Linked DNA regions of Homo sapiens. The protein of the gene in region 6 purifies or fractionates together with the protein of the main gene of each other region. This does not show direct contact. Each region holds a gene or a part of one and is shown on either strand. Other genes may lie near its edges.

Region 1 (3,500 bases), about 54 Mb from region 6:
GAAATAGACTCGTCTACATTCAGGACCTGTAGTTTATCTGAAAAACTTTTTAAAAAGACAAATCAAATATAAATTTATTAGCAAAGAAAATGCTTTGATTACAACTTATGAATAAAGAAGCAGATTTTTATATTGTTCATTCAAAAACTATCAGCATTAGAAAGACTGGTGCAGTTTAAAGGCTACCAACTTGGAAGCATTTTAAAATATGTAACATTAAGATGCAAGTTTTAGCAATTAGCTCTGTGGATCAGAAAGAATAGTTGAAATTTATCTTCATATTAGATCTTGGAAAGAAAGTTTTTCTAGGTAATTTGTTTAGTTTTTAAATCAATTAGTTGAGAAAGAAAAGAAATAACGTCAGACCACACCCATGTAAGCCAATCACCAACACCATAAGGGAGTTCTGTGACCCCTGAATGCAGGGGAATTGTACCTGCTGGCCTTCATGTGACTTCGATAGCCATTTCGTGCCACTCTTGTCACCGGGCCGAGAGAATGGTATAATCTGTTCCTGTTGGATTCCATTATAAATTGTATATATTACATATACTTTTATTCACACAGTCATTATCAATACCTAGAACAGTATAATAGTTTCTTCTTGTAATATAGCTTTCTAAATCTTACAAAAGGATAGTATGTGATTGTTCCTCTTTCTTTTTTAAAGCATGCAGCATAGATTTCAAAAAATTTTTTCTTCTACTATTGACTCTAGAAATACTTAGAGGTATTTAGTACACACCATATATTTACATATACATTCACTTTCACAAATCTGCTAAAAGAATTAAAGAGCTATTTATAGCCAAATAATAAAAAAAAAACCTCAAAAATACTTCAAAAATTCTTACGTTTCTATACCACTTCTTGGATTCTAGTTTAAATATGATGCCCGGATTTATATAAGTAATTCATTTTTATTATATGTCCCTATGAAGACACCTAAAAGCAATGTGGCTTGTAAACTCATGAGGAAAACTTTATTTTCCTCTTTATCCTTTATAGTAAATAAAAGAAATGAACTGAGTAATATAGGCGTTATATTATTTCTACATTAACTGACAAAGCCAATAAATGATAAAAATGATGAGTTAATACTTATCCAAAATGGCACATAATAGTTAAAAACAAAAAAAATAAAAACAGACACATAAAAATACTGATACTTCTTTGCCTAGGAAAACCCGAAAGCACTGTTGATAAATGATGTTTTAAAGGAAAAGCATTATTTTAGCAACTTAAACAATGTATTTGATGTCTGTCTAGAAAAAAAGACAACAATGTATTTGATTTCTGTCTAGAAAATAAGACAATGTATTTGATGTCTGTCTAGAAAATAAGAACAGAAAATGGTATGTCAACATTCAGAGTACATTTTTCAAGTTCACTATCCATGAGTAGTACTTTATATCCTAGTTCTTTATTCACTTTCTATTATTTCATGTCTGAATCTTGCTGGGCAGCATTCATTTCACTGTTCTCAAAATGTTCTAAGAGCCCACTATTTTAAACTTGGCATAAGAAAAGTAGCTTTTTTTAGCCACACATGTCTGCAAAGCAAAACACCTGTTATAAAGCAAAAAAATTGTTTTGAGACGTGAAGGTAACATCATTAAATACTGTCTTCATAAGTAACCTGCTGGGATGAGAACAGATTATTTAACACACCACCATTCTGGTTAGTCATAAGTCAAGCAATCTAAAAAACAATTTGGTTAATCAATATTTTTTAAATATAAAGATTACAGTACACTCTATAATCAACTTCTCATGGTTTTACGTTCTTTCTAGAGGGAAAGACAATTTGAACAAATTCAGACAACATGTCAAAGGCAATTCTTGTGTTTTTCACATTTCAGGCAAACCCAAATGAACAGATCAGAAGTAAAGGTTGCAAGAAAAATAATGCAAAAATAAATAAAAATAATTTGTTTTTACTTATTATTATCCCGCAAAACAAAGAGAACAAAAGTTGGGAACACTGATAATTAGAGTAGAAAGGATCAAAAGTACTTTGCAATGTAGAACTTATAAACAAAATCTTAATCACATAATAGTGAGAAATCTTTATGAAGTCACATAAAAAATAAGGATCTATTTTTCCAATTAAACAGCATGAAATTTATGATTTCAAATAAAATTTAATTTAAAATTGTTTTATAAATTGTGACTGATAAGGAGTTATGCAATTACACATTTTCAACTTCAGTATTAATATGACATTTAACATTCAATCTAAATGACCCGCTTGAGTAATGAATATAGGCATTTTCAGAAATTTAGTTACTTAGTTCATATACAAAAAAGGGAGCAATTGTTTTGGTCAAAAGCCAAATACCTTATGAGTCTGAAATGGCAGAACTGAAATGGTCAGTGAAAACATAAGAATCCTAATGGACATTTAATAAATAATTATTTGCATTGTTTGGTCACATTCTTCAGATCTTATATGTACTTAGACCTCAATATAGTATGATATTTGCTACAGGCAGATGACAGATTTAACAGCTTAAAGCAACAAAGGAAGGAGAAGGGAGCACAACTTAGAGTATTTCAGTATAAAAGTGTACTCTGAAAATTTTGAGTTTATGACCATTTAAATTCTAACCTTAACTTGCTTTACTTGTATAATTTAAAATTTATTAAATCATTTTGTCCTTGACAAAGCAGCAGAGAATAAAGTTGACCATTCCACTAAATGCCTTAAAATTACTTAAATGAACCAGAACTTAAGGAAATAATTTTTTGAATATGTAAGTAGGTTACTTGTCGATGATCGGTTATTATTTTTAAGTTATAAATGTAAATGTATTAAAATTCAAATACATGTGTCATGCCACCAAATAAACATTTAGAGATAAGACTATCATTCATTCTCATTACTTACATATCCAAACTTAAATATCAACTTCTAATTTCTTTTACCAGTAGAAAACTTAATCGCTTAGGGATATGTAGTAAATATTATCTCTGAAAATTTGTATTATATTATTTAACCCAGACAAAATAAACTCCAAGTAGTTCAAATGGACAATTTATCTTACCTTTCAAAAGCAGGCCATGAGGTCTCTTCACTTAGTTCAGAACCATCGCTGCTACCTAAAATGAAAAGTTATCCTATTTTTTAAACATCAGAATTACCTCTCTAGTTTGCATTTCACAATGTAAAAATAAATTAATTAACTATGCTCATAAAATGACAATCGCATTGTAGATGAACATATCCACATATTAATTCTTTATTCTAATATTACTGCTGTTAGGTTTATTTTGCAATATATTGGAATACAGTTGACACGACAACCTAAAATAACAAAATAGCATAAAACATTTTTGCTTGCCTATTTGTAGCTGAAATTCATTATGTCAATAAACAATTTTTCCTACCATTAGAGAACATAAAATAACACAAAATTTCTTATTAGGTTTGTCATAATTTAGGACCAATATAATTATAAAATCCTTGACGATTCATGGCATACTCCTTTCTCTTTGTA
Region 2 (4,209 bases), about 190 Mb from region 6:
CATCTGTTAAACTCCCTCACTTTCCTTCCCTTCTACCACATCATTATCCATTTTCACTACTATCCTTTTGGTGTCAAAGGGCAAAATGCCTGACTGACATATTTCCTAGATGAACCTTCCCCTCACTTACAGAACTGTTTCACCTGTACTGAAAAGAAAAACACACATGTGCCATAATGGAAAGAACACAGGTTTCAGAACTAGACATACCTGCTCAAATCCTTGTCCACAGTACTCTCCACTGTAAAAGAGGGATACTGACATGTTAACCACAAGGCTGTTGTGATCTATAAAGCATCTTTATGTACCTGGCATATAGTATATTCTCAATAAAGATGAGTTTCACTAGAACCAGCTCTCCTTCACAACCAAACTCTGGAGAATAATTTTACTCATTTCTCCTCATTTATTCCTCAATCCATCATGATCTCACTACTACCTTCTTTGCCATCCCCACCCTACCAAAACTGCATTTCAGAGGAAACAAGTGACCTCCTGATTGCTAAATATAGGGCAGGCCAGGCATGATGGCTCACCCCTGTAACCCCAGCTCTTTGGGAGGCCGGGGAAGGCAGATAGCTTTGAGCTCAGGAGTTCGAGACCAGCCTGGGCAACGCAGAGAAATCCCGTCTCTACAAAAAATACAAAAAATTATCTGGGTGTGGTGGCTCCTGCCTGTGATCCCAGCTACTCAGAAGGCTGAGGTGGGAGGATCCGAGACTGCACCACTGCACTCCAGCCTGGGCGACAGAGTGAGACCCTGACACCAAAGAAAAAAAAAAAAAAGCTTCTTAACTCTCATTCAGCTGGACCTCGAAAGCACGTGACATTGATAGTCACCGCCCCCCACTCCCTTCTTGAAATCCTTTCTTTGGCTCCTATTATAATGCTGTTATGTTCTAGTTCTTGTCCCGTTCCTTTAATCTCTCTTTTTCAGTGTCTATTACCTTTCAAACAATGATGCTCCTTCTGGTCCACAGCCCTTCTCATCTTTCAGTATTACCATTCCATACTAAGGCACACAAATATCCCCCATATATTCTCTTGACCCTCCAAATTTATGTATCCAGGTCCAAGCTTTCTCCCAATTTTCAGACCCAAATTTCCAGATACCCACAGTGATATTTCAAAACACCTCAAACTCGGCTGGGAGCAGTGGCTCACGCCTGTAATCCCAGCACTGTGGGAGGCCGAGGTGGGCGGATTGACTGAGGTCAGACGTTCGAAACCAGCCTGGCCAACGTGGGGAAACCCCGTCTCTACTAAAAGTACAAAAATTAGCCGGACGTGGTGGCGCATGCCTGTAATCCCAGCTACTCGGTAGTCTGAGGCAGGAGAATCGCTTGTACCTGGGAGGAGGAGGTGGCAGTGAGCTGAGATCGTGCCACTGCACTCCAGCCTGGGTGACAGAATGAGACTCCGTCAAAAAAAACAAAAACTAACAAACAAACCCTGAAACTTAACTTGTTCAAAACCAAATTTATTACCTTCTCTCAAAATTGCTTTTTTATGCTCCCTATTTCAGATGAGATCAGGAGCGTTGAGGGTGGTATAACCAGAGACTATGTTCCCTATTTCAATTAACACTACCGATTCACACCATCAGCCAAGTCAGAAACTTTCTACTATTCTTCTCAACTTTATTTTGAAACCTCTTGGAATTTCGGGCCATTCCCTCCCGCCTGGATGAGCACACTCGTTTTCTGCCTACCTGGCCTTTCCGCCTCCACGGTCTTCACTTTCAATCCTTCCTCTATATTTTCACCAAAGATAATGCAATCATACCAAGCTCCTGCTTACAAAACCTTCAACGGCTCCCCATGCATGCAGCATGAAGTCCAAATTCCTCAGCAAGTTCTTCTCAGAGGTATACAATTTAAAGACTTTTAAATTACGCAAACCTGGATTTCGCTTGTAGCGAAATCTGAACACTGGCTTAGTCCACTCTTCACAGCGAAGAGTAAAAAGCAGAGAGGGGAAAGGAAGGGAGACGATGACAAGCGAGGAAAGAAGAGGGGGAAGGCAGTAGGGTCTGAGGGGAGGGAATTGTTTTCCTGGGTAGAGGTGAACGTTTTCGAGGGAAGAGTGTATCGGAGGGAAGTCAAGTGAAGGAACCCAGATCTCTGAGGCAGGAGCGGGTATGCGAGCAGGGAGGCGCTCAGTGGGGAGCTGGAAGTCTCTGAAACAAGAGTTTTCCGAGAAAACGAAAGATCCCTAATGCGAGCGAGGTAACTTCTAATGGGTTCCCAGGTTCTAAGGGGGAGCAGACGTGGCGGGGAGCCTGAGGGAAGTGAGAAGGAAAGGGGAAAGCGGCCAGGAAGGGAGCGTCCGCCGCCGCTGAGAGGGGGACCTCTGGGAAGCCGAGGGGTCCCGTCGGGTGCGGAGGGACGCAGGCGCCTCTGCTCCGGGGCAGAGGAGGTGGAGCGGCAGCGCGCGCGGGCCAGGCAGGATGCCCGGGTTTGTGACCCCCGTCCTCTTTTCACGTTACCTGAGGCAGGACTGAGCAGCCAGAGGGGTGCCTGCGCGGGCAAGAGGAGGAGACGGCGGCAAAGAGGGAGCATAGTAACCCTCACAGCTCGTTGGTGGCAGCGGCTCCTTAGCCTGCGGAGGCGGTGGGAGCCCCTAGCGCAGAAGCCGGCGACTCAGCTAGGCTAGCGGCGGCGGCGAACGAGGAGACTACTGCCATGGCCCCACAGTCGGGGCCGCTCCCCCCGCCTGTTTGGCGGGGCCAGGAGGACGATCCGACCAGCGAAGCCAACAGGGCAGCTGGTAGCTCTGCTGAGCTCCCGGGCCGCGAAAGACTGAAACGCCTACCCGGCCCAGCAGGGGGGTTGGGGGCGGGGTCTCGGCTGGCCACGCCCCTCCCTCAAGCCCTCCCTCAGAGTAGCCAGTCAACCGTCAACTCCTGATAAACGAGGTAGTGGAATTGCCCAATTAGCGCTAGGAATGCCACGTGGTATGAGGGTGGGCACAATGGGCGTCCAGAAAAGCCAATCAACAGCCGTAGGTGCCAACTCCGGAGGACGAAGGGAACCAATAGGAAGGAAGTCGAGGTAAAAACAGAAGAAGCAGTGTGTGGGAAAGGCGGAACCGAGGAGGAGGGAATACACCTGGGGGAAACCCAAGTCCAGGAGCCTCTTAGAGGGCGGGGCAGTAAACACAAGATGGACCAATAAAAATGTTAAACACAGAAATGATTGGTAATTGATAAAGCCAATAGAAAATGGACTAGACTGGCGCGGCTTTCGGGTTGGTCAAGGTATAGCTGAGTAAGGAAAAGCGGTAAGAATGCTGCGTCCTGCAGGATTTCAGTATAGTGAGGAGGAAAAAATATATCAATAATACCGACTTGAAATAGTAAGAGCAATCAGTAGAGCTAAACAAAATGCTAGGGAAGCAATTAATCATGACTATGAGATTCGGTTAAGTGAAAGCTTAGAGGAGGTAACACTTCAGCTAGCTTGAAAACAGATTTTGAAAGAAAGCTGGTGGGGAATAAGTTGGGATTTTTTGTTGTTTTTGTTGGTTGTTTTTTTTTTAGAAGGGTCTCACTCTGTCGCCCAGGATGATGGAGTGCAATGGAGCGATCATGGCTCACTTGCAGCCTCAAACTCCTGGATTAAGATGATCCTCCCAACTCAGCCTCCCCGGATAGCTGGGACTACAGGCACACGCCAGCATGCCTGACTAATTTTTTGTATATTTTGTAGAGACGGGGTTTACCATGTTGCCCAGGCTGGTCTGTAACTCCTGGACTCAAGTGATCGGCCCACGTTGGCCTACGAAAGTGCCGGGATTACAGGCGTGAGCCACCGCTCCCAGCTAAGAATTCTGCCCAGCTGTTCAAGGCACATATTTCTTCACTTTTTGCATGTGCCTGGACATCAGGAGCTCATAATCTCATGACTGAAGAGACTAGAACAGGAGGAGGGCAAGAGCAAGCAGTATGGGCCTTACTGTATTAGCACTCCCAGGGGTTAGAGACCCCTTTTCAGACATCTTAAGACTTTCATCCTCCTGGAAGAGTATAAGTGGTATGCATTCCTGGTGGCCATAAAGTTTAAGAAATATGGCCAGGGCCGGGAGCAGTGGATCACGCCTGTAATCCCACCACTTTGGGAGGCCGAGGCAGGGGGATCACGAAGTCAGAAGATCGAGACCATCCTGGCAAACATGGTGAAACCTCGTCTCTACTAAAAATAGAAAAAT
Region 3 (3,500 bases), about 230 Mb from region 6:
AAATTTTTTTTTTTTTTTGGTGGAGATGGGGTCTCCCTATGTTGCACAGGCTGGTTTCAAACTCCTGGTCTCAAGTGATCCTCCCACCTTGGCCTTCCAAAGTGTTGGGATTACAGGCGTGAGCCACCTCACCCAGCTGGAAAAAGTCTTAGTGGTGTTTAAAATCTTTTATACTTAATGGAACCCTGAATTTTTTTTTTTTTTCCTGTTTTAGGCAGGGTCTTACTCTGTCCCCAGGCTGGAGTACAGTGATGTAATCATGGTTCACTGTAGCCTCTACCTACTGTGCTCAGACAATCTTCCCACCTCAGCCTCCTGAGTACCAGGGACTACAAGCATGCACCACCATGCCTGACTAATTTTTGTATTTTTTTGTAGAGATGAGGTTTTGCCATGTTGCCCAGGCTGACCTCGAACTCCTGGGCTCAAGCAATCTCTCTGCCTCAGCATCATAATGTGCTTGGATTACAGGCATGAGCCACTGTGCCTAGCCAAAACACTGTTAAGAAAATTAAAATACAGTTGGGTGTGGTGGCTTGTGCCTGTAATCCCAGCACTTTGGGAGGCCGAGGCGGGAGGATCGCTTGAGTCCAGGAGTTCAAGACCAGTTCTGTGTCTTGCTAGTGGTTATATAATTAATTTAAGAGGTAACACTGCATAGAGCCATACACACATGTAAAACTGGTGAAACCTGAATAAGGTCTATAGTTTAGTTAGCAGTATTTCAATTCCCTGGTTTTGATATTGTACTATGGAGGTGTATGGAGGTGTAAGATGTTAACACAAGGGCCGGGCATGGTGGCTCATGCCTGTAATCCCAGCACTTTCGGAGGCCAAGGCGGGCGGATCACCTGAGGTCAGGAGTTTGAGACCAGCCTGACCAACATGCAGAAACCGCGTTTCTACTAAAAATACAAAAAATCAGCCCGGCGTGGTGGCGCATGCCTGTAATCCCAGCCACTCGGGAGGCTGAGGCAGGAGAATCACTTGAACCTGGGAGGGGGAGGTTGCGGTGAGCTGAGATCACGCCATTGCACTCCAGCCTGGGCAACAAGAGCCAAACTCCATCTCAAAAAAAAAAAAAAAAAGATGTTAACACAGAGGGAGCTGGTGAAGGGCACAGGGGTCTCTCTGTACTATTTTTACAACTTCCTATGAATTAGTCTATGATTATTTTTTTTTTCCCCAGACGAAGTCTCGCTCTTGTCCCCCATGTTGGAGTGCAATGGCGCAATCTTGGCTCACTGCAACATCTGCCTCCAGGGTTCAAGCAATTCTCCTGCCTCAGCCTCCTGAGTAGCTGGGATTACAGGTGCCCGCCGCCACACCCGGCTAATTTTTGTATTTTAAGTAGAGATGGGGTTTCACCATGTTGACCAGGTTGGTCCTCAAACTCCTGACCTCAGGTGATCCGCCCGCCTCGGCCTCCCAAAGTGCTGGGATTACAGGTGTGAGCCACCGCACCCAGCCAATTATTTCAAAATAAACAGTTAATAAAGGTCAGACACAGTGGCTCACACTTGTAATCCCAGCACTTTGGGAGGCCGAAGCAGGGGAATCACCTGAAGCCAGGAATTGGAGACCAGCCTGGGCAACACAGCAAGACCCCGTCTCTACAAAAACATTAATAAAAAATAAACAAATCAAAATCACAAAATGTTAAAAAAAATGTATTATTACTGCTACATTACCTAGAAGCTCTATTTTGTGTGTGTGTGTGTGTGTGTGTGTGTGTGTGTGTGTGTGTGTGTGTGTGTGTGAGAGAGAGAGAGAAATAGAGATATTGAGAGACTGAGAGGTAGGGTCTTGCTCTGTCACCTAAGCTGGAGTGCAGTGGTGCAATTACAGCTTACTGCAGCCTCAATCTCCCAGGCTTAAGGGATCCTCCCATGTAGCTGAGACTACAGGCATGAGCCACTATGTCCAGCTAATTTTTAAATTTTTTGTAGAGACAGGGTCTCGCTACCTTGAACGGGCTGACCTTGAACTCCTGGGCTCTGGTGGCCCTCCTGTGTTGACCTCCCAAAGCATTGGGATTACAGGCATGAGCCACTGCACCCAGCCTAGAAGCTCTGTTCATATTTATTTGCGAAGATCAATTTGATGACTAAGCAGTAAACTAATTTATAAAATAATATTAAATATTAAAACCAACTTTAAACAATTATCTTCACCTATGTATGTGTGTGTGTGTATATATATACACACACACACACACATATATATATATTTAACAAGTATCTCCAATACCACAACCAGTGTATTTTTTGTTTTTTTGAGATGGAGCTTCGCTGATGTTGTCCAGGCTGGAGTGCAGTGGCGCGATCTCGGCTCACCGCAAACTCTGCCTCCCAGGTTCAAGCAATTCTCCTGCCTCAGCTTCCCAAGTAGCTGGGACTACAGGTGTGCGCCACCACGCCCAGCTAATTTTGTATTTTTAGTGGAGACCTGCCTCTTAATTCTCCAACATGGAGGGGTTTCTCCATGTTGGTCAGGCTGGTCTCAAACTCTCAACCTCAGATGATCCGCCCGCCTTGGCCTCCCAAAGTGCTGGGATTGCAGGCGTCGCCACCGCGCACGGCCACCATTATGCCTCGGCCTCCCACAGTGCTGGGATTACGGGCGTGGCCACTGCGCGCGGCCACCATTGTGCCTCGGCCTCCCACAGTGCTGGGATTGCAGGCGTGGCCACCGTGCGCGGTCACCACTGTATTTTTTGACAAGGGTGAGTCAGGACTGACACTTAATTCATTTGTTTGATATATTAACTGCTTTAAAAGGACACACAATGCTAGCTGCACCAAAGTGCATTCAAATTCCTCATAGCATGAATCTAATTTTAAAAAACCTTTGTAGGGCGGGCATGGTGGCTCACGACTGTAATCCCAGCATTTTGGGAGGCCGAGGCGGGCAGATCACGACATCAGGAGTTCAACACCAGCCTGGCCAAGATGGTGAAACTCCGTCTCTACTAAAAATACAAAAAAAATTAGCTGGGCGCGGTGGCAGGCGCCTGTCATCCCAGCTACTCAGGAGGCCGAGGCAGGAGAATCGCTTGAACCCAGGCGGCAGAGGTTGCAGTGAGCTGAGATCACGCCACTGCCCTCCAGCCTGGGGGACAGAGTGAGACTCCGCCTCAAAGAAAAAAAAAAAATCCTCTGTATTAGGAAGTTTTATTAGAAAAAAATACTAGAGCACAATAAGAAAATATTCATAACGAACTTATACAAAGTAGCAAGGAAAACATTAAGATGCCAATAAATAAATGTGCAAAGAACATGAACAAAAGTCACACACACACAAATACAAACATAATACACGAGTTCGTTCCCATGTAAGAACTCAATCAATATTTGTTGCAAGACTAAATGAAAAAGGAAAATTTATTTAGTGACAGAAATGGGGAAACATTCAACCTCAACCCTGAGTGGGAAAAAACTTACTGCCCACTAAATTACCCATCTCATCTCACCCCGGTAAATAATGCCCAGTGCTGGCAT
Region 4 (4,273 bases), on a different chromosome or scaffold from region 6:
GATCACAGCTCTTTCCAGCTAAGCCTAAACACAGCTTCAGAAATTATGAACTTGGCAGTCCAGATATGAAATAAAATAGAGTTGGCAATCAAGTTGAAACTTATTTGCTACCCTTAAACTGGTTCATGCTCTGTTGTTTCTAACTGGAATACCAGCACCACTTAGAAAACAGCTGCTCAAGTGAGAGAGAGGGATGCCCAAATGATTATTTCCATCAAGATCAGCCCAGTATTTTATCTTCCAGTCAGAAGTGAAAAGAGGTACCCTTCTCCTAAACTACAGAAATAGTAATAAGAGAACAAGGAAGAACAGTGGTTGTAGGCAAGACTTTCTGCTTTAGACCTGAGTACATAGGATTTTATGTCCTCCCACAGCCTAAACATCTGATATATTATTGTTTTCCAATAGATACAGTGTTTGTTTTCTTATCAAATGGGAAGATAAAGAAATGGTCAGGGTAATTCCAATACATTTCAACTCTACAGACGTCGTAAACAACAACTCCATGACTGTTCAACTAAGTTTTTAGCCTCATCTGATGCAAAGTCCATGGATACAGTTAACCAAGATTCTTTCTCGTGGTCAACTTCTGATAGAAGCAAACTAACTGTATCAGATAACAGGCTTCAAGCCCACACAATTACCTGAGGGGCCTTGCTCAAGGGAAAAGGGGAGGTTAAGCCAGTGTCTTGATTTTGTTCTATCTATTCCCGGAAATGAGCAGCAAGCTGACAGCTTACCAGAGAATGTGTGTAGCATTAGCTAGTCAAGAGAACAAATCATCAAGAAATCTAATTATTAATCCAATTTGCTAAGAGTTTTGACAAATCATTTAATACTCCTTGGCCTCAGTTTACCCATATGTAAAGTGGGCAGAATAATCTTAACCTGTCACAGGAACAATATAACATATTAAAATGTACAAAATGTACCATCTGACCTATAAAAATCAGGAGTCCACACAGACTACCATTTCTCGTTCCCGTTTGTGAATCTTCAAGGCCTCAGAATGTCAGAAGTAATGAAATCAATAAGATGAAGAAGGCAATAGGGTCCATCTCTCTGGCTGAATACCATCCTCCCTCACCTGCACACTAAGAAAAGCCCAAGAGGGCTCTTCCTTCTGTGACCTTGGGGGCAGATCACTCTACAAAAAAGAGGAATTATCTCTACCCCACTCACACCTTAGAAGGAGGGCACAAGGAAGAGCAAAGAGATAAACCTGGATGTACCTGGAGTTCTCTGGAAGAAAGGTGCAAGAGAAGTCAATCATCATTACAGTTAACTATCATTTTCATGCATAATTATTACCACCCTGAACAAAATTCTAGCTTCCGGGGAGCTCTCTTCAGCTGCTTCCCCTATATTCTTACGGGAGAAGCTAAAGCTTATATCACTTCTGCTCTTGGTTTCTTAACTCTGCTGCCCTCAAAGATCAACCAGAGAGGGAACCTAAGTGCAGGATTTTACCCTAGAGACCCCAGGCCTCAGGCTAACCAGCTATGAGGAGCAGGGAATGAAGCAAACTCTCCAGCTTTTCATGAGGCATTTGGACAAACAGCAAACTCCCAGCCACCTCTAGGATCAAGTCAAGACAGTGAATTTGTGTTTTTCTGCATTTTAATTGTTGGGATGTGGCCACACACAGTGGTAATTGGAACAATGCAACTACCACCACGCAACTGATACTCTCAGCCTGAGTTTCCTAAAACAGGCCAGGCTGCGAGGGGGAACAGAACGGAAGCCATAAGGAATCAAACCAGGACACAAAAGAAGGCAAACCAGCTCCGCGAGGGGCCTCCTCTTTCTCAAGCAGGCATTGAAAAAAGTGTAAGAAGCCCTCTCTTGCCGCCTTCCTTCCCCTTCCATTTTGTGTATCTGAAGGGTAGAGACAGCCCTGAATATTCACTAAACAAGTTAAAACTTCTCAGTTTAACAACTGGCACGGGGCTCAGCCCTTCACAGAGCAGCAGGCCGCTAGGCCCTCTCAGCAACCCCACCAGACCTAACTCTCAGTCCAGGCTTTCCCTCCACCAGCAGCCCCCAAAAATAAAGATCAGACCCCCACCCCATCTCCTATTGGATGGCAGTAACCCCTGACACTCCTGTTTCAGGGATGCTGAGGTTGTGCTGTACCAAGACAAGGTAGGATCAGGTCAGGCCAACAGGGAGGAGAGTCACAAACCCTTTGGGGACCTTCCCCTCAGGTCCCAGCCCCACACCTCCTGGGGAGACTGAAGAAAAACATGAGGAAGGCAGGGAGCTGCATGAACAGGTAGGTGGAGATCTGCCTGCTCTTCTTCCATATGGTTCTGGTGGGGAAAGGGGTGACAAGTGGGGAACACCCCTCCCCCCACCCCCATGAAGAAGCAAAAGGCTAGGCCCCTCCAATCTTCAACCTCTCCCTCTGTTGCCCTGCCTGTCCCCGCGGGGTGGGGCATGGGGCGTCCGCTGGTCCCCGGGGCGGGGGGGGGGGTGCGCCAGGGCTCGCTCAGGGGGGCTGTCGTTCGCCTCTTCCCACTAGGTTCCATCATCTGGCCGCGGGAAGCGAACTCAGGACGCAGGGGATGGGGAGGGTCTGGGACTTAGCACTCCGCCACCCCCTCCCCCACCGGGTCCCGTGCTCTCCCCGCAGAGGCGGCCAGCGAGGCCCGGCCGCGCGGGCGGTCGGGCTGGGGGAGGGGAAAGAGGGAAGGAGGGAGGGACGGTTGAGGTGCCCGCCCCGAGGCCCCAGCGCCACCTGCCCTCCACCACCTACCGCGGTTCCTCCAGCTCCCAGGGCCGCGGCCGGAGCAGCTCTGAGCGCTCGGTTCGCCCCACGGTGCCCTTAAAAGGCGCTGGCGCGAACCAACGAGTCCCTGAGGAGAGTAGGGGGACAGCTCCGGCTCGCAGAATCCCCCCAAGCCACCCATGGAGGGCGCAGCTCCGTGTCGTGTCTCTCTCAAAGTGTCTCTCGGACAGCGCTGTTGGGAACGAGCCTGGCGCTTTGATTTAGGGATGGGGGTGGTTTCCTCACTAACGAGTCACCCCCTCCAAAATATCGCAGAAAGTGGACGGCCCCAGTTGGAGGCACATCTTGAAACCCGCGGGGGAGGCCATGTCGGAAGAAGGTAAACAAAGGCATCGCCCCTGCCCTCCCTCCCTCCAACGGCCCAACTGCAGCCTCCCACTCGGTTCGGGCCGCGTCACGCAATTAGCCACAGTGCCCCTCACCTGCTCTGCTGCCCCGCCCTCCACGACCACCTCTTCGAAGGAATCCCCCTTCCCCCAGCAAAGGACCCGTCCGCGGCGTGAAGGCTGCTGGGAAGTGTGGTCCAAGCGCGGATTAGGGCCTGCTCGGAGTCCCAGGAGCCCCTCTTGCAGCTGCCGGATCGGCCTGAACCTTAAAAACCCAGGACTTATAATGGTTGCGGGGACGTTTCCACTTGGTTCTGTAATTTGCCCTCACCCAGAACACTTTGTAAAGCTCAGGATAGCCCAGGGCTGTTCACTCCCTCTCTTCTCTCTCCGCCCCCTCCCCCCCAGCAGGATGAGGTAATGGGATTGTGATTATGACATCATAGGCGGTTCAGTTGCTTGCGTTTGCCTGGGGGGAGGTGCGGGGAGGTGGGGAGAAGTGCGGTGGTTAGACTTTCCTTAAACAGAAAGGGAAGGAGGAAACAGGCAGATGGGGAAAAGATGTTGACGGCGCTATATTTCCACTTCAGGAAGACAAAACCACCTTTTATTAAGTCTCCACCACTACCACCACCTCCCACATGAGCCAAAATTTAAGTCTTTTTTAAAGAGATTGAATGTAGACGTTAGTGTGTGAAGAGGTTGGGTTGATGGTTTCTGGCTCTTATGTAAATTCGAGTCTCAGCTAGCATCACAGATGGTTTAGGGAGACAAGCAAAAAAGTGGATAAAGGAGAGGCTTTAAACAATGCGTTCGTGTTGTGATCTCTTTGTAATACAAAGTTTTCTATTTCTTTTTTTTAATTGATTGGAAAGTAGCAGTAATGCAAGTAATCTTCACTATTACACTTAGCAGCAAGTCCTCTGAAAGACATCTGTTTTCTGTAAATATTTTGTGCCTTACTCAAGACTGGGACAGGTAAATAGCTGTGATCAGCTGGAAAGTAGAGCCAGTGGCGGGGGTCGTCCTCACTGAGCCAGGGAGGGGAGGAGGCAGGAGCCACCAAGTCTACAAACTGAAAAAGAGTAGAGGAAAAATGAGGTACAGTACTAACTGAGAAAATAGGGGTGGAAAGATTTACCTTGCACTGCTTATT
Region 5 (3,500 bases), on a different chromosome or scaffold from region 6:
TAGAACTATTGAGAGGTAAACAATTTCATCATCCTGAAATTAATGGAACTTCCTCATGAGCTCAAATGGACTTGGACCAGGAATGCTCTACCTGGGTCTTAACGATGAGTATGCTATACAATTGTCCACTCTGGATTAGAAGTTCCCATGTCACAAAATGGTTAGATATGCATTATCCAGTTCCTTACATACACAGGCTTTATAGTACCACTCGGGAAGGGGGTGATTTAATTTCATTGAGGGAGAGAGTTCACTCAGCCTTCTTCATTCAGTTTCTAACTTGGATCAGAACTCGTGAAAGTATCTGCTGTGTGTGATGCCCTTTGCAGGTGCTATGGAGGTGTAGGAGATGGTCCTATTTGTCAGTAACTGTGAGCCCTCAGATCCTGCAGTGATGGCATGGGGAGCTGGACAGGTTCCTGAAGAGCCCCCGGCCCTGCAGCTGTATCGTCCCATCTCCTTTAGCCTGCGCCTTTCTCTGACACTCCCTTTCTGGCAGCTTCCTGGACAGTTGAAGAAAATGAGAGACTTGCACTCAATATGCATCATTTTCTACACAAAGTGGTCATGTCTGAGGGGTTGGCTTTTAAAGGGAACTCACATTCAGGACATGACAAAAGCAAAGGCATAAACATTGAGCAATCAAAAGATAATTATTTCTCAAGATAATTATTGAGAACATTTTTCTCAAATTTTTAAACATTTAAGTCAGCACTCGGAGACATAAATTTTAAAAAGAGCAATGAAAAGGTTTTCCTTTTTCTCCTCAAGGTCTACAAACATCTCAATGTAAGATTTTTATAGCCTTCTTAGAAGTTGATTTATCATAAATATTATTTAATGTGGTAAAATATACATAAAATTTACCACTTCAACCATTTTCAAGTGCACAGTTCACTGACATTCAGTGCATTCACATTGTTGTGCAACCATCACCTTCATCCATGTTAAGGACTGATCTTTTAGTTTCATGGGATAAAAACAATGAACCTTGTGTTTTCCTCCCCCTCTGCCTCTAAATCCTGGCTATTATTCAAGGTTCAACTTAAATCATAGCTTCCCCATAAAGTCTTTCTTGATGATTTCAACCTACGTTGAGGTTGAGTTTTCTTCCTTCTGATTAATTGATGGATTCATTCATATACTTGTTCATTTATTCAGTATACATTGAGCACCAGTATGCTGGTCATACTTTAGGCAGGGATAGTACAGCAATGGACAAAATAGATAAAAATCCCTGCCTTCGCAGAATTTGCATTCTAGTGGAGAGAGTCTGGAAATGAACTATATAAAGAAGACATGCCTACTTATTTATATCTATCTTTTTTTGGGTAGAGAGATAGGTAGTTAGATAGCACACCAGATGGACACACAGGTGTTAAGTGTTCTGGAGAAAAATAAAACAGACAAGTAGGATACAGCAAGCCAGGTAAGGTTTAAGAGATGCAATTGGAACCAGGATGGTCTGGGAAGGCTTCACTGGGAAATTAAGTCATTAAGTCAAGAGCTGAGAGAGGTGAAACCACAGGCCATATAGAAATCTGAGCTGGGCTCAAGCCTGGCGAGGGTGGGGCACAGCAAGAGGCTATAGCAATGTCACTGGAATGGCACCTGAGAGAGATGAAGGCAGCAGATGGAGACACTTGATAAGTACTTGTTGGGATGTCTGGGAACAGATGACTTGATGACTGTGAAATCTTGGAAAACCTAGCAATTACAACTAAAATGTGTACAGAAATCATACTTATGATGTCATTAGTTTCTTTGCACACAATGATTTGGAAAAATAATTCCGTTAAGACACACAGAATATAGGGAAGAGGAAGGCACTGGACACCTACCTTTGCAGAATCGGAAACATTATCCCAGTATGGAGAAGGAAAGTCCACCTGCCCCATCAAAATCTGATCAAAAAGCACCTCCTGGTCATCACCACTTCTGTTTAGGTGAACGACAACAAGGAAAAACAGCACTAAGATATCAACTCAGTGTACATCTTTTCAGTCTTAGGCACTGGAGCCCTTCCTTTCCCCCCATAAATGTGTAAAAATGTGTATTTTTAATCGATTGAAAAATGTCAATGTGGATCTGTTTTGGTAAATTAAGAAAGAGTTTTTGGGCCGGGTGCGGCGGCTCACACCTGTATTCCCAGCATTTCAGGAGACTGAGGCAGGTAGATCACTTGAAGTCAGGAGTTCAATACCAGCTTGGCCAACATGGTGAAACCCCCATCTCTACTAAAAATACAAAAAGTAACTGGTGTGGCGGCGCACGCCTGTGATCCCAGCTATTCAGGAAGCTGAGGCAGGAGAACTGCTTGAACTTGGGAGGCAGAGGTTGCAGTGAGCTGAGACTGTGCCACTGCACTCCAGACTGAGCAAAAGAGAGACTCTGTCTCAAAACCAGAAAGAAAAAAAAAAAAAGAAAGAATGAGTTTTTAATGATATGGGGAAGAAATATGGAAGGCATATAAATTAGCATGCATGACATAACAGGGAAAAAATAACAGGGATTGCAAGTAAAGTTCTTGTGCTCTTTTCCTGCTGCAGGCTCCTTTGTGCAAGAAGGGCTAATGGATCACTCAGAGAGTAGAGAAATGCTTTGTCGGCGCTGAATAAAAGATTGTTGCCCATACCCACGGAATGGAGGGAAACCACACAGCAGGATATAAGTGATTACACCTGCTGCCCAGATGTCCACCTTGAGGCCGTATCTGGAAAAATAAGGGATGTTAGAGTTAGGAGGGTCAGGCTCGGACAAATTATGCAGCTTGGTAAAATCAATGACTTTCCTCCTCCAAGCCAAAAATAAAACCAAACAAAATAACAATCCCAACAACAAACGCTAAACTAAAACCCACCACCTAAACAGAGTTCAAAGAAAAAGTTTAAAAAATAATAATTTTAAAAAAGACCAAGGTGCAGGAATAAAAATCAAAGGAATGCATTGCTGGACTTATTTGTAAATATCAGTAAATGAAGGTTTTCAGCAAAAAGGTTTATTATAGTAATAACAATTCTGAGATAAGGATGGACCCTTGAGATAAACTCCCTCACTTTAGGAATAATAATTATTTCTAGAACGTTTTCCAATTTATAGAGCACTGACATACATGATCGTACTTTGTTTTCCTAGCAACTCTGTAGGTTGGACAAGACAAGTATTGCTTATTGTACAGAAGAGAGAAAACAGGTTCAGATGGGTGAGTAATTTTGCTTAAGATCACACAGTTAGTGTCAGAGCTGGTCCCCAATATGGTCTTCAAGACCCACCACTTCCTCCCAGCAGCAAGCAGAGCATGTCCCAGTAGAAAGTGTGTCTGTGCCCCAGGCAGCCCCACCTGAGGGAGGTCAGACAAGGCTATGGATGTGGGCTCCCACCTCATTCAAATTTGCCAAGTAGCAAAGTCCTCATTCCCTCACATCTCGCCTCAGGAATTTCCCTATTGGGATTCCCTTCTCATCTATTTGGTTTTTCTGCCCTTGTGGTCTATGGTACAA
Region 6 (3,500 bases):
ACCAGCAGGCCTGCCAAAGTGTACAGATCTCAGCACACCTGCAGGGAACAAGGCTCAGAACTGTTTCCTCATACTGCAGGCTGCCTGGAATCACCCAAGTTAGCCAAATTAAAAAGACCCTCACCTCCAACCAAGATGAACAAATACCTGATTAAGTGACACCTGATTTTGCAGAAAGAATAAAAATAGTAACGTTATTAGGCTGTAAAGAGTTGTAGAAAATGTTTAGGTATCAATGAGTTCACACACACACAACATTAGGAAATATTTAAAGCACAAATATTTTAAATGTAAAACACTTAGAAGTGTTTCTAAGTAAAATATTAAAATGAATATAGTCAACAGCTTGCATTTAAATTTTGTCTTACAGTTTACTAAATTCTTTGACATATATGAGGAATTGGCAAACTAGAGCCCACAGGCTAAATCCAGCACAATGCCACTTTTGTAAATAAAGTTTTATTGGAACACTGCCACATTCATTTGTTTACATATTGTCAAGGATTTTTTTTGGCTACAACAGCAGAATTACATAGTTGCAAACAGAGACCATATGGGCTGCAAAACCAAAAAGATTTACTATCCGGCCCTATACAGGAGAAATTTGCCGACCCCAGACATACACTGTCTCACTTAATCCTCACGTCACCCTATTCAAAAAGCTAGTGGAGTCAGACAGAGCTCAAACCTACTACCACAAATAACACCATTTGTCCTCCAATGTGAAAGGAACAAACGCTCTGAGATGTTCCTTTTCCCAGAGTCATACGCCAGAATACATCAGGCATACTGTCACCTGGCTCCTGCTATGACTTACCATACATTTATCAGCAGACAGTTACTTGATTTGGATATAGTCTGTAGCCATGGAAGAATTTCTATATCAACCCAGATAACATATAAGAAGGAATCCATAAATCTGGTCCTCAGAACTGTAGCTTTCAAACTTTGCTGTATATCTATATTTGCTGAATCATCTGGAATCTTCAAAGAAAAATTATTGTTTCCTCATAAAGTAAGATAGACTAATGAATGCATATGGGTTAAATCTATGTTAAAGCACATTAGTGAAATGTTAATGGTAGAATCTAGGCAGTGGGATTATAAGTGAAATAATTTTTGTAAGTGAATAATTTTAAGGGATTTTTTTATTTTATTTTATTTTATTTATTTATTTATTTATTTGACGGCATCTGGCTCTGTTACCCAGGCTGGAGTGCAGTGGCACAATTTCAGCTCACTACAACCTCCACCTCCTTGATTCAAGCAATTCTCCTGCCTCAGCCTCCCAAGTAGCTGAGATTACAGGCACCCACCACCACGTCCGGCTAATTTCTGTATTTTTAGTAGAGACAGGGTTTCACCATGTTGGCCAGGCTGATCTTGAACTCCTGACCTCAAGTGATCCACCCACCTCAGCCTCCCAAAGTACTGGAATTACAGGTGTGAGCCACCATACGCAGCCTTAAGTAAAATTTTAATTTTCACTTAAAACTATGTCAGTTCTATATATTCCAAGATTTTCCAAATAAAATATTAGGGAAAAAATGCATCGCTTATTCCTAAGGTTCACTGAAGCAGAATATCCAAAAATGAGGCAGAACATGTTATTTTTAAAAAGTTCTCAGAGAGATTCTGACGCCACAATAGGTGTGGGAACTACTGCTAAAGAGTGTCATTCTGGATCAACAGAACTAATCATTTAGCCTAGAGGTTCTCAAAGTATAGTCTAGGGATCCCTGGGGTTCCCTAAGATGGTGACAGTGTGAATGCAGAAGCAGATATGAACATCCATCTGTCTTCTCCCAAAGTCTGGCATTAAAGTGAACTCTACAAGTGCAAATAAATGCCACCATCCTCATTAAATTTGTTTGGGAAAATATGGGGGTTTTCCCATTACAAATGCTACGTTAAGATGTAATGGGGTCTATTGTTATATTCATATTATTAAACATTTTTAAAATGTATCATTTTAAATTTCTAATATGATAAATATTAATTGCTATAAACCAAAGCTCTTTGGGAGTCCTGAAAGCAAATATTTGAGAACTGTTAATCCAGGCAATATACGGAGACAATAAAACACAAGTTCCAGGATCAGAGGTCCCAGATTTAATTCTTAGCACTCCCCTCTGATGGGTTGAATGACTTTGATCAAGTCAGTTAATCATTGAGTTCAGTTTTTTTTTTACCTGTAAATTGGGGATAATTAGAGCGCCACCTCAAAAGGTTGTAGTGACAAATAAATGAGGATAAATTGTGAGTAGTGCTCGGCATCTAATATGCCCTAAATAAATGTTAAAAACTCATCTTGTTACTATTAGGTTGGTGTACAAGTAATCGTGGTTTTGCAATTATTAATACTATTATTTAGTTAAAAGCACTCAACGTGAAGCAATATTTGGAGAAGATGAATTTTAAAAACTAAATTCACACTGCCAAGGGGTCAACTGTACAAATTTAAGTTTCAGGCTCCAAAATAAAGCCATCACAGCTCTCCCAGGTCCCCCACAAAACCCTCTGCCCATTAAAATTCCTTCATTGGGGTGCTTCTATTTTTCGGGAGCCCTGGATTGCCTCAGAGGGTTTGGGGAGCCTCAGAGAGTTTGGGGACAGTCATTAACATTTGGAGTTAAGATCATCAGCCTGACACGGTAAAGCTAGAGAATATTTTCCAATTTTGGAAGTAGTTAGAAATGTAACAAACCTGCACATTGTGCACATGTACCCTAGAACTTAAAGTATAATAAAAAAAAAAAAGAAAGAAAGAAATCAGAGAGAAAATGTAGTCTAAATTAATTCAGTAAACAAATTGTGATGCTAAAAACTAGGCTTGAATTGTAAATGATAAACAATGTGGTCAAACCAATGTCTAAGTAAGTTATTTTAGTTTTTATTATTGCCATTCTGACAATCTATGATAGTACAGTCATAAAGCAATGACCGCAAGCTTATGTTTCTCTCTCTGTAGATGTGTTTTCTTGCAGCAGATCATACTACACTACTCCTCAATAACCATCAATGGCTCTCCCTTGCCTCTTAAATAGTCCACACATCTTAGTATGGCATCCATGGCACTCACTGCCTGACCACATGCGAAATGCCTGTTTCCTTCCCCCCCAAAAAAACCCTTTCTCCACTTTTCATTCTAGTTACACCTAACTACTCATTGTTCCCTGAAAAAGCCATATGTTTTTATGCCAGTATTTACCTAATTGGCTTTAATGGGTTAAGAAACATTAAACAGATTTTCCCTACAGGACTTCTGACAGATCTCCCAAGAAACGAATACAGTATCAGAAATCAAGACAATCAGTCTCAATGAAGTTATATAACTTGCTCAAGGTCACACAGCTAGTAAATGAGGACACTGATATTCAAATCCAGATCTGACTGACTTTAAAGGCAATGCTAGATAGAGCCAGAGGTGGTGTCTCTTACATGTAATCCCAGCACTTTGGGAGGCTGAGGAGGAAAGATGATGGCTTGACTCCAGGAGT
Region 7 (3,500 bases), on a different chromosome or scaffold from region 6:
ATGGTTCCATCACCATGACTGCTTGAACTAAACGCCGTGAGTTGTCTGTCCTCAGACATATTCAAGCAGTCAGAGAGACCTTCGAGGGGTAGATTATTCTCCTCCCATCGTGACAGCTTGGTTTTCTGAGCGCAGAGCAGCTGAAGTCAGGCCTGGGGTAACGCCACACCCCCGCGACCCTTCCCCGCCTCTCCCGGGAGACCTTGCCCTCCCAGCTGGGTCATCCGGCAGCCCAGCAGCTTCCGGCCCCCTCCAATTGGCTGTAGGGGCCGATGGCGTCACTGGTTGCTATGGCGAACACCCAGATCACGACGTGGGCAGCCTGGAGCCCACCAAAGTAAAAATAGTCGTGTGTCCCCAACGTGGCCGCCCTGATGTGTGTGGAGGGAGGGTGTCCTGAGACCCAGTTTCCTGCCTCTCACTCCACTAAGAGACGTGGGCAGCCGGCTTTCCTCTGCACCTAAGTTTCCCTGCCAGTAAAACAGCCCCTGCCCGCGGTTCGTAGGAGGTGGCTCAGTAAATGCAAGGACATTTACCAGGTATTATGACAGCTTCCATGGTCCCTTGCTGAGCTCAACAATAGTACAACAGCACACAACAGCAGCAATAGTAATGGCTGATCATGATTAACCCAGAACCCTCCTCACGTCATCTCCAGTTACAGATGGGGAAACTGAGGCACGGGGCATACAAATAATTTGCATGGCCAGGAAGAAACAGAGAATTGAACTGGACCCAGGTCTGGGTGTCCCCAGATTCTAAACTTGTGCCACATGGCATTTTGAGAATTTAATAAACCCTCGTGATTGACCGGGTGCGATGGCTTACACTGTAATCCCAGCCCTTTGGGAGGCTAAGGTGGATGGATCACTTGAGGTCAGGAGTTCGAGACCAGCCTGGGCAACATAGTGAAACCTCGTCTCTGCTAAATATACAAAAATTAGCCAGGCATGCTGGCACACACCTGTAACCCCAGTTACTTGGGAGGCTGAGTCAGGAGAATCGCTTGAACCCGAGAGGCAGAGGTTTCAGTGAGCCAAGACTGCACCACTGCACTCCAGCCTGGCGATACAGTGAGACTCCATCTAAACAAACAAACAAACAAACAAAAAACTGGTTTTTTGGCCAGGCATGGTGGCTTATGCCTGTAATCCCAGCATTTTGTAATCCCGGCATTTTGGGAGGCCAAAGTGGGTGGATCATCTGAGGTCAGGAGTTCAAGACTAGCCTGGGTAACATGGCAAAACCCTGTCTCTTCTAAAAAAAAAAAAAAAAGTCCCAGCTACTCTGGAGGTTGAGGCAGGAGAATCGCTTGAACCTGGGAGACAGAGGTTGCAGCGAGCCGAGATTGTGTCATTGCACTCCAGCCTGGGCAACAAGAGCAAAAGTCTGTCTCAAAAAAACAAAAACAACAACAAAAAAAAACCCTCTTGGGCAGCCCATGTCTGAGGATGGACTGTGAGGTCACAGTGGAACACAAGCTCACGGCTTTCTATCCTTCATGCGGTGAGGGCACCCAGAGTTGGTGCAGGTCAGTTTGCTGAGCTCTAAAAGGGTCTTCAAAAGGGAGTCACCCGTCAGCCGTCCTCCCCACGCCCCCACTGGTACCCAGGGCCCAAACCTGCATAGGCTTTGCAGCGAGTGAGGAGAGAATGGCGTTCAGACCTAGACCCAGGAGGAGAGGGACATCTGAGATGGGACAGGGAGAGGACAACTCAGGAATCTCTGTTTTCTCAACAGATTATTAGTTTTTAGCCACTACTGACATACTTCTTCATAAATACAACTAATTGGTAATTTTAAATAAAATTATTATTAATTTTTTTTAGACTTAGAGTCTTGCTCTGTCACCCAGACTAGAGTGCAATGGTATTATCATAGTTCACTGCAACCTCCAACTCCTGGGGTCAAGCAATCCTCCCACCTCAGTCTCCTGAGTAGCTGGGATTGCAGGCGTGCAACACCACACCTGGCTAATTTTTTTTTCTTTTTTGAGACGGAATCTCTCATTGTTGCCAGGCTAGAGTGCAATGGCACCATCTCAGCTCACTGCAAGCTCTGCCTCCCAGGTTCAAGCGATCCTCCCGAGTAGCTGGGGCTACAGGTGTGCAATACCACGCCCAGCTAATTTTTGTATTTTTAGTAGAGACAGGGTTTCACCATGTTGGCCAGGATGGTCTTGATCTCTTGACCTTGTGATCTGCCCGCCTTGGCCTCCCAAAGTACTGGGATTACAGGCATGAGCCACCGCACTTGGCCCTTCTTATTTATTTATTTATTTATTTATTTATTTATTTATTTATTTATTTTTGAGATGGAGTTTCGCTCTTGTTTCCCAGGCTGGAGTGCAATGGTGTGACCTCGGCTCACTGCAACCTCCGCCTCCCGGGTTCAAGCGATTCTCCTGCCTTAGTCTCCCAAGTAGCTGGAATTACAGGCACCCACCACCATGCCTGGCTAATTTTGTATTTTTAGTAGAGATGGGGTTTCACCATGTTGGCCAGGCTGGTCTTGAACTCCCGACCTCAGGTGATCTGCCCACCTCAGCCTCCCAAAGCTCTGGGATTACAGGTATGAGCCACTGCGCCTGACCGGCCCGGCCTTTTTTTGGAGACAGGGCTCAAGCAATCCTCCCACCTCAGCCCCCCAAGTAGCTAGGAGTACAGGCTTGAGCCACCATGCCCAGCAATTTTTTTTTTTTTTTTTTTTTTTTTTTTTTGTAGAGACGGGGTTTCACTCTGTTGCCCAGGCTAGTTTCAAACTCCTGAACTCAAGTGATCCATCCGCCTTGGCCTCCCAAAGTGCCAGAATTACAGGTGTGAGCCACCGCACCCGGCCTACTCTGGCTAATTTTTTTAAAAAGTTTTGTAGAGATGTAGTCTTGCTATGTTGCCCAATCTGGCTTAAACTTCTGGGCTCAAACAACCCTCCTGCTTTGGTCTCCCAAAGTACTGAGATCACAGGTGTGAGCCACCGTGCCCAGCCTAAAATATTTTTTAATGCAGGTATGGTAGGAGCCGGGTGGGGAATTAGACTGTGAATCTGGAGGGCCTCCAGGAAGAAAGGATGTTGAGTTCAGATCTGGAGTATGAGCTGCAGTTAATTAGGGCCAGAAGGGAGGGAAGGCTGTTCTGAGAGAGCGCACAGATAGCGCAAAGGCCTTGAGGCAGGGCTGAGCCAGTGTGTAGAGTGAGCGGGAAAGATGCATTGGTTGGGGCATGGGATTGGGGATTGTGGGGGTGCATCAACGGCCAGGGGTTCTGAGGGCTAGTCTCTCTGAGAATGATCCCCATTTCTGTCTCATTGCAGAAGGAGCTGAGCCTGCCACGCCGAGGACGTGGGTGAGTTCACCTGGGACTGGCGGGCTGGGTGGGCCCCAGTGGTCTTGGAAGTGGATATTTCAGCAACAGCCACTGAATTGTGAATGTATTTAATAATTACAGCAACACATCTCATGTTCATTCTTGCCCTCGTGTTTGCAAAGTGCTTCACAAGCACCT

What was found.
Region 1: the proteins of MAP3K21 (region 6) and RALGPS2 purify together in Homo sapiens (affinity purification with mass spectrometry, with the first as the bait; one large-scale study listed by BioGRID). This does not show direct contact.
Region 2: the proteins of MAP3K21 (region 6) and TESK2 purify together in Homo sapiens (affinity purification with mass spectrometry, with the first as the bait; one large-scale study listed by BioGRID). This does not show direct contact.
Region 3: the proteins of MAP3K21 (region 6) and NADK purify together in Homo sapiens (affinity purification with mass spectrometry, with the first as the bait; one large-scale study listed by BioGRID). This does not show direct contact.
Region 4: the proteins of MAP3K21 (region 6) and FAM53C purify together in Homo sapiens (affinity purification with mass spectrometry, with the first as the bait; one large-scale study listed by BioGRID). This does not show direct contact.
Region 5: the proteins of MAP3K21 (region 6) and DCLK1 purify together in Homo sapiens (affinity purification with mass spectrometry, with the first as the bait; one large-scale study listed by BioGRID). This does not show direct contact.
Region 7: the proteins of MAP3K21 (region 6) and MAST3 purify together in Homo sapiens (affinity purification with mass spectrometry, with the first as the bait; one large-scale study listed by BioGRID). This does not show direct contact.

The regions. Positions count from the first base shown.
Region 1 is NC_000001.11:178,889,244-178,892,743, reverse strand, and holds part of RALGPS2 (ras-specific guanine nucleotide-releasing factor RalGPS2), read right to left. Parts: intron 3,103-3,500; coding exon 3,048-3,102; intron 515-3,047; coding exon 437-514; intron 1-436. UniProt on the Homo sapiens protein: Guanine nucleotide exchange factor for the small GTPase RALA. May be involved in cytoskeletal organization. May also be involved in the stimulation of transcription in a Ras-independent fashion.
Region 2 is NC_000001.11:45,488,364-45,492,572, forward strand, and holds the start of TESK2 (dual specificity testis-specific protein kinase 2), read right to left. Parts: upstream 2,801-4,209; 5' UTR 2,489-2,800; intron 1-2,488. UniProt on the Homo sapiens protein: Dual specificity protein kinase activity catalyzing autophosphorylation and phosphorylation of exogenous substrates on both serine/threonine and tyrosine residues. Phosphorylates cofilin at 'Ser-3'. May play an important role in spermatogenesis.
Region 3 is NC_000001.11:1,771,971-1,775,470, forward strand, and holds part of NADK (NAD kinase), read right to left. Parts: intron 1-3,500.
Region 4 is NC_000005.10:138,336,793-138,341,065, reverse strand, and holds the start of FAM53C (protein FAM53C), read right to left. Parts: upstream 2,801-4,273; 5' UTR 2,759-2,800; exon of another isoform or gene 2,711-2,758; intron 1-2,710. Other genes in the region: CDC25C (M-phase inducer phosphatase 3), read left to right, coding at 2,911-3,110.
Region 5 is NC_000013.11:35,806,383-35,809,882, forward strand, and holds part of DCLK1 (serine/threonine-protein kinase DCLK1), read right to left. Parts: intron 2,714-3,500; coding exon 2,636-2,713; intron 1,939-2,635; coding exon 1,842-1,938; intron 1-1,841.
Region 6 is NC_000001.11:233,334,224-233,337,723, reverse strand, and holds part of MAP3K21 (mitogen-activated protein kinase kinase kinase 21), read right to left. Parts: intron 1-3,500. UniProt on the Homo sapiens protein: Negative regulator of TLR4 signaling. Does not activate JNK1/MAPK8 pathway, p38/MAPK14, nor ERK2/MAPK1 pathways.
Region 7 is NC_000019.10:18,104,278-18,107,777, forward strand, and holds part of MAST3 (microtubule-associated serine/threonine-protein kinase 3), read left to right. Parts: intron 1-3,309; coding exon 3,310-3,341; intron 3,342-3,500.